2 separate regions of the Homo sapiens genome follow, and region 1 is linked to region 2. A link means that fine-mapping ties the variant in region 2 to the expression of a gene that starts in the linked region. Tissue or cell type: monocytes after interferon gamma. Region 2 holds a variant in brackets; the other region holds the start of a gene. All regions are shown on one strand. Distances are from middle to middle.

Region 1 (5,128 bases), 65 kb before region 2:
CAGGCATGGTGGGACATGCCTGTAATTCCAGCTACTCAGGAAGTTGAGGCAGGAGAATCCCTTGAACCTGGGAGATGGAGGTTGCAGTGAGCCATGATCGTGCCACTGCACTCCAGCCTGGGCAACAGAGCAAGACACCGTCTCAAAAAATAAAAAAATAAAAAGTACTGCATTCTCTACTAGTTTCACAAGTCACTTGACTTTCCAACGCTTTAAGGATACTTCTTTTATAAGCCCGAATGTACTGCACTAAACTTAGTAGGAGATCCCTGATTGTCCATTATAATTGATCAATTAACTGAAATTACACAAGTAAACAAAAATGCCAGATGTCTGCCTACATATAATATTTATAAATCTGAATTTTATTTCATATATGGATGGAAGTTAAGGCCTTAACCGGTCAGCCTCCTTCCAGTGTTTTACCCTCCATTTTACCCTAAAAAAGGATAATCAACTGTTAACGCATATTCATAATGTGAAGTTTCCAGGATCAAGAATCCAAGAGGTTTTTTATTAACCATAATAAATCCAAACTTCTATCTTCCATATGCCTCCTTCTATTATATCTAACCTTCTATTCTCTCCAAAAGCATATAATTATGCCTGTTTCCTTACTGTGCCACAAACAGACTAACACATACTACCACGGAGCTGTTTATTTTCCAAACGGGATATCTTTTTCCATTCTCTCATTCAACATCCAACGGTCCATCAAGGCCCAACTCAAAACCTATTATTCTCCACAAAGCCCATTATATAAACCCTACAAGACTTAAAACAGATTCCAAACTAGTGACTGATAGGCCATATGAGACTTGTGTTTGACCCACTTTTTTTTTTTTAATAAAATTCTATTCCACTGACAACATTTAAAAACTGGGAGAGGATGCTTTTTAAAAAATGGTATTTCCAACTTTTTTTGAAAAAATTAGATGTTCTGGCAAAACTGGGATCATATTCTCACATAGCCACAATCAGCTGTAGCTGAGTGGCAGGTGACCCCTTCTAAGGGTGAAGTATTCATTAACGTTAACTGCCTGATCTCTGCAGCATACCTTCAGCACCTGCAATCATTCAAGAAATAACTGACTGTCTTATGTGCCAAGAACTGTATTAGCTACTGGAGTTACAAAGATAAACGAGACAAACACAGTCCCTCACCGACAGTCTCGCTTAGTAGGGATGGCAAAGAAGCAATTAAGATACATGTGATAAATGCCGTGAGGGAAGTGCAGGACAGCTAAGAGTACATAGCAAAAATACCTAACTCTATGGAAGTTAGGGTATACCCCTCAAGTAAAGTGACAGCTAAACTCAGATCTTTAATAGAAGTTATCCAGAAAAAGATAGGAGGAAACAGGGAGCTCAAATGTCCCAGAGAGAGAAAAGAGCCTTTGTGAAGATACTGAGGGAAGAAAGTATTCTGAGGAATTGAAATCCGTTCAACATGGCTACAGCCATGCCCAACCTTTAAATGCAGGGTCAGAGAAAGGGCTCAACTGAAATGGCTGGCAGGAAAATCTACGTGTTATCAATAGTTAAGGTTAGGAGATGAAGGAGAATTTCACTAAAGAAGTTGAATATGTAAAATAGTTTAAGCAGGAAATAGAGGTTTCAGAAAGCACAGATGGGGTGTTGAGGGGTTAAATGGGGAAGAAACGAAGAAGCAGTGATAGCCTAAGTCGAAAGAAAGCACAAAGCAGCATGGAAATGAGACTATAGCACAGAAGACCACAGAAGCTTACATCTTGGGCGGTAACCAAGGATAACAGAGATGTAAAGCATGGTAAGTTTGGCTGGCCACAAGTATGCCTAGAGAATTAGTGCCAGCGGTCTCCTGTCGGCCACGGAGGCATTCAGGCCTCTCAAAATTCAGCTGCGCCCTGGATGGATTGTACTTCCGTCTCTATAGAAGACATCGGCTTCACTCTGGATTGATTGTGCAGGCTCCAGGAGAGGCTGTGGGTTCCAGGCTGCTGGAACGCAGGCTCCCAGGGAGTGGTTAGAGGCCTGGTCTGTATGTGCTGGTAGGCAGAAGTATAAATTACCTTGCATTACGTTCTGATTTTTCTGTAGGAATGGTGGGCATGTTATGGCCTCTTAGAGAAAAAGCAGTGCGTAGCCATTATAGATTTACAGGAAGAGAAAAGGTGCCAAGAAGATCAACACTTGTCCATACCCATACTAAAGATGAGTCATTCTGTGAATCCAACTCTCCCCAAGTTGACCTCGTCTCCCCAACTAGACTGAGATCTTCACCAGAAAACAAAACAAAACAAAACATAAAAGGTCTGTTTATTTTGTAGTTCCCAAAGTGCCTAATAGCTGGGTACCGTGAACACCTTCAGTAAAATTACCGACTTCCTGACTCCTCTCGGGTCACTGAAGTTACCTAGCTCAGTCGTCTTCTTGCATATTAAGGCGCTACAGAGAGGCGAACCCCTATCTTAGACTCAATACTTCCCTTTATTCCAAACTCCACTGCGTCTCTCCACCCTCAACCGCATGGGCAGAATTGTCACACAATTCAAAGGCAGGAGAATCCAGGACCCGACACAGAAAACTCCCGCCCACTCCCCCCCGTTTAGCAGCCCGCACACGCTCTGCATCCATCTCTGGGAAAGGTAAAAAGCGCTCACCGACTCTGGCCCTCCGGGAGACCCCGTAAATGCAGCCGTCCGCTCGCCGCCGTTATCCCAGGTAGGTACTTCCGGCGCGCGCAATGACGTTAGCGAAGCGCTCGCCTCTGGGCCCGCCTTCGGGGCCCGGATCTCAAACAGTCGGGAAGAAGCACCGTGGCTGCTATTATCTGCTCTCCGCGCCTGACCCCTCCCAGGACTCGTGATGCCAAGGCCGCTGCGAGCGGCTACGAAGAGTCGGGGTTGAGCCCCAGCTGAGCCGAGGGCTCGCACTCTTCTGGTCTCCCAGGCCCAACCCACCTGAAGGTAAACGCCTCCTCAGCTGCGGCCTTCTCTCCTGCGGGGCCCCCTCCCCAGACTCGGCTGCCAAAACGCTCTGCCCCTCTCTCCCGCCACCCTTTTTATTCCAGGACCTTAACCTCTGCCTGCCTTCGCGGCTCTCAGCAGAACGTGTAACGCATAGTTTCAAATGAGAAACTTAAAAAGCGACGTATCTATGTTGAGTTCCTGAAGTTTTCTAAATAATTCCCCCATAACACCAAACATGAGGCAGTTTTCTCATTCCTTCACGAATTGGCATGCCATAGAGTCAGTATTTTTCCATTTGTGATGGTTGATCTTCCCATCTCAAATACACACCGCACGCTCTTTTTAAATCAGAAATTTGAATTTGGTTGAGCCTGATATTTTCACGGTAATTTGCTGACTTTGTAAGATAAGATGTGAAAATTACTGATTACATTTGTAAACTTTATATACATATACACACATACCTACAGGTCTGTCTCTTCGAGGCACCAAGCCTATTTATATAATGTATCATTTCATAATTTGGCAATAAGCAAAATTAGCGTTTCGAAAGAAGTTTATATTGTCGATACATAAAGCTTAAATTTACTCCTTAACATCATACTAAAAGGGGAAAAGAAAATTTTCCTCTTAACACACCACTCCAGAGAAAAAAAATATTAAGACAAGCAAAAAAGGTACCCAGCCATAGTACAGGCATGCACAGCATAACAACTTTTTGATTAACAACAAACCACATATACCACAGTGGTCTCCTAAGAGTGTAATACATTGTACCATATTTTTAGTGTACGTTTTCTGTGTTTAGCTATGTAAATATTTACCATTGTGTTTCAACTGTCTACATTATTCACTACATTAACATGCTGTACAGGTTGTAGCCTAGGAGCAATAGGCTAGACCATCTAGGTTTGTCTCAGTACACCCTGTGATGTCTGCACTGTGAAATCACGTAACACTCAGAACATACCTCCTTCATTAAGCATAGCATGACTGTGTATTAGCAAAAATCAGTGGCTAAGGTTCTGTCTGAGTCCCCATGCTCTTTCTGACCTGGGTGAGCAAGGTGCAGGTAATGTACATATACAGTACATATTCAATAGAGCATTTTTTTTGCTCATGGTCTGAGTGGAAGTTAGGAGTAGCCTCAGGGTTTTTCCTTCATCTGTTCAAAACCCGTCTCCCTACCCATACAATCTGGCACTGAAAGTGTTGGTATAAAGAATACTTGAAAGAAGAAGAACCAAAAAAGAATTTTTTTTAAGTGGTGACTGGGAAAAAGGAATTCCTTAATTCAGCCTGCTGGAGTCATTGTTCCTAACTTCCTAAAATGTAAGGAAGGTGTACACATCTGGCATAATTAAATCGGTGATTGTTAATACTTTATTGGTTTTTGTTTTTTGTTTTTTTCCAAATAATACCCAGACTGGTCTGATGTATTGGTTTTATTTGGAATTAATAATACTTGGTTTAGGCCAGGTGTGGTGATTCATGCCTGTAATCCCAGCACTTTGGGAGGCTGAGGCAGGTGGATCATTTGAGGTCAGGAGTTCAAGACCAGCCTGACCAACATGGTGAAACACTGTCTCTACTAAAAATACAAAATTAGCCAGGCATGGTAGTGGATGCCTATAATCCCAGCTACTCGGGAGGCTGAGGCAGGATAATTGCTTGAACCTGGGAAGCAGAGGTTGCAGTGAGCCGAGATCACGCCATTGCACCCCAGCCTGGGCAACAAGAGGGAAACTCCGTCTCAAACAACAAAAAAAGAATCCTGGTTTAGACTGATTGCTGATAAGTTTGTTTTCACTTTTAGAAATGAGTGGTGGATTGGCTCCAAGTAAGAGCACAGTGTATGTATCCAACTTGCCTTTTTCCCTGACAAACAATGACTTGTACCGGGTAAGTAAATCTTATCGAGTGACTGCTATTTGAGATACAGATAACCTTAAGCAAATAGTTCTCCCTGGCAAATTCTTTTTTCCTTTTTTTTTTTTTCTTTTTTTGAGACAGTCTAATTCTGTCACTGAGGCACGAGGCTGTAGTGCAGTGGCACTATCATGGCTCACTGCAGCCTCCCCGCCCCCTCAGGTGATCCTCCCACCTCATCCTCCCAAGTAGCTGGGAATACAGGTGTGTGCCACCATGCCTCTACAAGCTACCTGGGAGACTGAGGT
Region 2 (5,212 bases):
GAATGGCTATAGTAAAATAAAGATTGACAGTATCAAATGTTGATGAGTATTTGGGACAACTGGAACTCTCACATATAGCTAGGGGGAGTGAAAAATGGTACAGCTAGCTTGAGAAAAAGTTTGGAAGTTTCTTACTGATTTAAATATAAAATACCATGTGATCCAGCAATCCCACTCCAAAATATTTACCCAAGAGAAATGAAAACTTATAGTCACACAGAATACTGCATGCAAATGTTTACTGCAGCTTTATTCATAATCGCCAAAAACTGGAAACAACCCAGATGTCCTTATACTGGGCAATGAGTCAACAAACTGTGGTACATACACATAAAGGAATACTATTCTGCAATAAAAAGGAACAAGCTATTGATACAAGCAACCCCATTAAGGAATCTCAAATGCATTATTTTAGGTGAAAGAAGCCAGACAGGAAAGGCTACATGCTGTATGATTTCATTTGTATGACATTCTGGGAAAGGCAACTCTAGGAGTGGAAACCAGATCAGTAGTTGCCACCTGGTTAGAGCTGGGTAAAAGGGTTGACTACAAAGGAGTAGCATAAGCGAATATTTTTGGATATTGGAATCATTTTATATCTTGACAAGGCTAGTGGTTACATGACTGAATGCATTAGTTGAAATTCATAGATGAGTGAATTTTACTATATGAATTGAAATATAAATTTTAGAAAATGATTGCATACATATAATGAAAACCTTGGTTAATAATAATCTGGAGACCTCCTGCAGTGACTAGTGAAAGAGTGAATATATGATCAAGAAACATCAAAAGAGATGCTGCAGAATATGTGAAGAGGTGTGCTAATGTTGTAAATATTGTTTCAGGCATGATAATATGGTTTTGTACAAAAAATTGTCTTACAAATAAATATACATTGGTAAATAGATCACTGTATTACTACAAAGATGAACACAAGCCATATTTTAAAGAATACTATAGAATTAACCATTACATGATAAACTAGGAGTCATAATAATAGATTAACAAATTTTGCCAACCGATTATTCATTCTGCAATCATAAAAGTAAAAAGGCCGTGGAAAAAATGCCTTGCTATTAAAAACATCATAGAAATTTCTTGGGGTGGAGGAGAAGTATGTGCCTCTGGCAAAGAAGCTAAAAGCAAATGTGGAAACTCAAAACCCTCAAAGTAAAGCTGCTTCTCTTTCTGGCAACTGGCATGACTTCATATATATGAAATCTTACTTGGACATCTTATCAACTAGAAATGCTTTGATGTCAGTTTAGAAGCAAGAATTTCTCTATGCTTGCTAAATAACTAGAGATTTCCATCTCCACAAATTATTATTATAAAGCTCTTCTATTAAAATAAGACCAGATTGATTTTATACGTGATCACATCTTACATTTGTAAAATGTATCAACTCTACAAAGCACTTTTACGTGTGTGTGTGTGTGTGTGTGTGTGTAATATATGCCTCATTTAAACTTAAAATTTATGCTTGGATTTGAGAAGATTTTAGAAACTTTCAGACCTGTAACATTCTATTATTTTCAAGTAGTTCAGGAGTTTTATAGCAATTTAGCCATAGAAATACATATCACTATAAAGGTTACAATTTATTTTGGTCCTTTCACTTCATAATAAAAAGAGAGTATAAGGTTTGTTGAGATCTACACTTTAGGCAGCTGTCACCAACAGTGGCATTTGAGTTTTGGCCTTGATTCAAATAGAAACTAAGATTTCATCTCTCCTAGGCCACACCGCGCCCAAACACTATGTATTATGTGAATAGAATGATAGAATTTTAGAATTTCATACCAAGAACAATCGTGAGAGATTTTTGAGTACAATCCTTTCATTTTGCAAACGAGAAAACTGAGGTCCAGAGGACCTAAGTGATAAATACTTTGAGAAGGGGTGGGGGGAGGGGGGAGGGATAGCAGTGGGAGATATACCTAATGCTAGATGACGAGTTAGTGGGTGCAGCGCACCAGCATGGCACATGTATACATATGTAACTAACCTGCACATTGTGCACATGTACCCTAAAACCTAAAGTATAATAAATAAATAAATAAATAAATAAATA[C/AATAAATAC]TTTGAGAAATATTTAGACACAAAAAATACTTAGATAAAAAACAGTTCCAGAATAGAACTGGAGCCAACTCAAATATGTTACAACCTTCAGCTGATTCTATACCTCTCTCCTTGTTTTAATTTGTATAAATAGGCTGGGTGCAGTGGCTCATGCCTGTAACCCCAGCATTTCGGGAGGTTGAGGCGGGTGGATCACTTGAGCACCCTGGGCAACAAGATCAGCCTGGGCAACATGGCGAAACCCCATCTCTACAAAAAATACAAAAATTAGCCGGGTGTGGTGGCATGAACCTGTAGTCCCAGCTACTCAAGAGGCTGAGGCAGGAGGATTGCCTAAGCCTGGAGGTCAGAGTGCAGTGAGCCATGTTTGTGCCACTGGACTTCAGCCTGAGTGACAAAGTGAGACTTTGTCTCTAAAATAAAATATAAATAATCATAATTGTTGTTTTGCCTGAATTGTTTTTTTTTTCTTTTTTAATTTTTGAGATAGAGTCTCGCCCTGTTGCTCAGGCTGGAGTGCACTGGCATGATCTCGGCTCACTGCACCTTCCACCTCCCGGGTTCAAGTGATTCTCATGCCTTAGCTTCTCAAGTACGTGGGATTACAGGTGCCCACCACCACGCCAGGCTAGTTTTTGTACTTTTAGTAGAGATGGGGTTTTGCCATGTTGGCCAGGCTTATTTCAAACTCCTGAACTCGAGTGATCCGCCCGCCTCGGCCTCCAAAGTGCTGGGATTACAGGCATGAAACACCTTGCCTGGCCTGAATTGTTCTTTTGCCTAGGGACAGGGCACCCTAGGCAGAACGAATCCTGGCAGGTGGCCTAGATGTCCCATGAGAGTATTCAGTGAGTCCAGGGAGGATGGGCTACCTGACAATTCCACTAAGCTGTTTGGGCTTCCATGAGTCAGAGGAAAGAAAAGAGCAATGCTCCTTTTCAAGCCCCAGTGGCACTCAGGTAAGCCAGGTAAAAGCAAACATTTGCATAGAACTTACCGTACCAGCCACAGTACTTTGTGTTATCAACCCACAATAATTCTTTTTTGTTTTTTTTTTTTTGAGATGGAGTCTTGCTCTGTCGCCCAGACTGGAGGGCAATTGTGTGATCTTGGCTCACTGTAACCTCCGCCTCCCGGCAAGTACTATTATCACTCCATTTGATAGGTGAGGAAACTGAGGCACAGGAGAGTTAAGTAACTTCTCCAATATTCAGGTAGACAGTGGTAGCACTGGGATTAGAAACTGTCAGTTTGGCTCTAGAGTCTAGCCATTGTGTTGAGCTGCCTCAGAAAAACAGCTGGCACTTAGATATTACATATAAGTGCTAGGTGCCCTTCCTTCTTTCCTTCCTTCCTTCCTCTCTCTCTTCTTTCTTTCTTTCCTTTCTTTCTTTTTTCCTTTCTTTTCTTTCTTTCTTTTTCCAGACAAAGTCTCTCTCTGTCACCCAGGCTGAGTGCAATGGTGCAATCTCAGCTAACTTCAACCTCCACCTCCCAGGTTCAAGAGATTTTTCCTACCTCGGCCTCCCTAGTAGCTTGTACTACAGGTGCACGTCACCACACCCAACTAATAAGGCACTTTTCCCAAGGGCTGTACATATATTAAGTGGTTTAACCCTCATAATAATCCTGTAAGTACATATTATTATTAGTCCCATTTTACAGATGTGAAAACTGAGCCATGGGTTAAGTAATTTGCCCACAGTTACACAGCTAGTATGCTTCAGAAGCAGAATCTGAATCCTGGCAATCTGGTGACAAAAGATCCCTTGCTTGGCCAAACTTTAGTCAGGCTTCTTTTTATTTTTTTTTATTTTTGAGAGGAGTCTTGTTCTCTCCCCCAGGCTGGAGTGCAGTGGCGCGATCTCGGCTCACTGCAAGCTCCGCCTCCCGGGTTCACGCCATTCTCCTGCCTCAGCCTCCCGAGTAGCTGGGACTACAGGCGCCCGCCACCATGCCCGGCTAATTTTTTGTATTTTTAGTAGAGACGGGGTTTCACCGTGTTAGCCAGGATGGTCTCGATCTCCTGACCTCGTGATCCGCCCGCCTCGGCCTCCCAAAGTGCTGGGATTACAGGCGTGATCCACCGCGCCCAGCCTAGTCAGGCTTCTTAACCTTCTGCTAAGCCCATTTGTCCACTTTCTTGTAAAATCCCATTTTAGCAAAGAACCCTGCTGGGTGAATTTGACAAGAACTGCCCTCATCCATGATATCTGATCATCTTCAATACCTGATCAGGTTCCTCATTCTCCCTGTTCCCCAGGTGATATCTGGTCACCCTGGCCTGTCTTCAGGAAACATCCTGTTAGTTTGGTTTAGCTTGAATCCTCTTTACCCCTGACATTTCTTCTTTGTAAATTTCTATCCACTGACTCCCACTCTGCTCCTTGGCTATAATTCCCACTGTGATGTTATTGAAGTTGAGCCCAATCTCTCTTTCCCACTGCAAGACCTCATTGTGGTGGTCCCTCTTCCTATCGCAGTGGTACTGAATAAAATCTTCCTAACTGTGCTTCAACAGGTATCACTGAGTAATTTTTTTCTTTTTACACTGGCTATAGATAATGCCCCAACCACTGGTTTTTGCTTCTTTACAAATTTATTAATATTAAAAATTTTTAAATATATTTAATTCTGGCCGGGCACGGTGGCTCACATCTGGAATCCCAGCACTCTGGGAGACTGAGGCCGGTGGATCATTTCAGGTCGAGACCAGCATGACCAACATGATGAAACCCTGTCTGTACTAAAAAAAAAAAAAAAAAAAAAAAAAAAAAAAGCCAGGTAGGTAGTGCACACCTGTAATCTCAGCTACTCTGGGAGTTTTAGGCAGGAAAATCGCTTGAACCTGGCAAGCAGATGTTGCAGTGAACCGAAATCGTGCCACTGCACTCCAGCCTGGGTGACAAAGAGAGACTCCGTCTCAAAAAAAAAAATTTTGCATATATATATATATATATATATATATATATATATATATATATATATATTTTAATCCAATTAATGTTAAGTAAGGCCAGGTGTGGTCGCTCATGCCTGTAACCTCATCATTTTGGGAGGCTGAGGCAGGAGGATCACTTGAGCCCAGGAATTCAAGACTCCATCTCTACAAAAAATAAAAAAAAACAATTTTCA

Alleles and levels. Positions count from the first base shown, and alleles are read on the strand shown. Sizes are in standard deviations (SD) of each study's normalised expression.
With allele AATAAATAC in place of C in region 2, the expression in monocytes after interferon gamma of the gene that starts at base 2,705 in region 1 is lower (moderate effect, 0.53 SD a copy in Fairfax 2014).

Evidence for each region. PIP is the estimated chance that this variant, and not a neighbour inherited with it, causes the effect.
Region 1: it holds the start of PPHLN1, and the variant in region 2 is fine-mapped to the expression of PPHLN1 in monocytes after interferon gamma (Fairfax 2014, PIP 0.95).

What each region holds. Positions count from the first base shown.
Region 1 is chr12:42,323,744-42,328,871 of GRCh38, reverse strand. PPHLN1 (periphilin 1) reads right to left here and starts at 2,705. Exons shown (of 10, transcript NM_201439.2): 1 at 2,643-2,705. ZCRB1 (zinc finger CCHC-type and RNA binding motif containing 1) reads left to right here and starts at 2,778. Exons shown (of 8, transcript NM_033114.4): 1 at 2,778-2,948; 2 at 4,768-4,853. The coding sequence starts at 4,770. MIR7851 (microRNA 7851) reads left to right here and starts at 5,013; the gene lies at 5,013-5,128. RefSeq lists an enhancer at 3,033-3,082.
Region 2 is chr12:42,258,431-42,263,642 of GRCh38, reverse strand. No RefSeq gene overlaps it. Among named protein-coding and RNA genes, the nearest start is that of YAF2, 23 kb to the right of the region's middle. The variant C/AATAAATAC (reference allele first, on the strand shown) is at 2,078.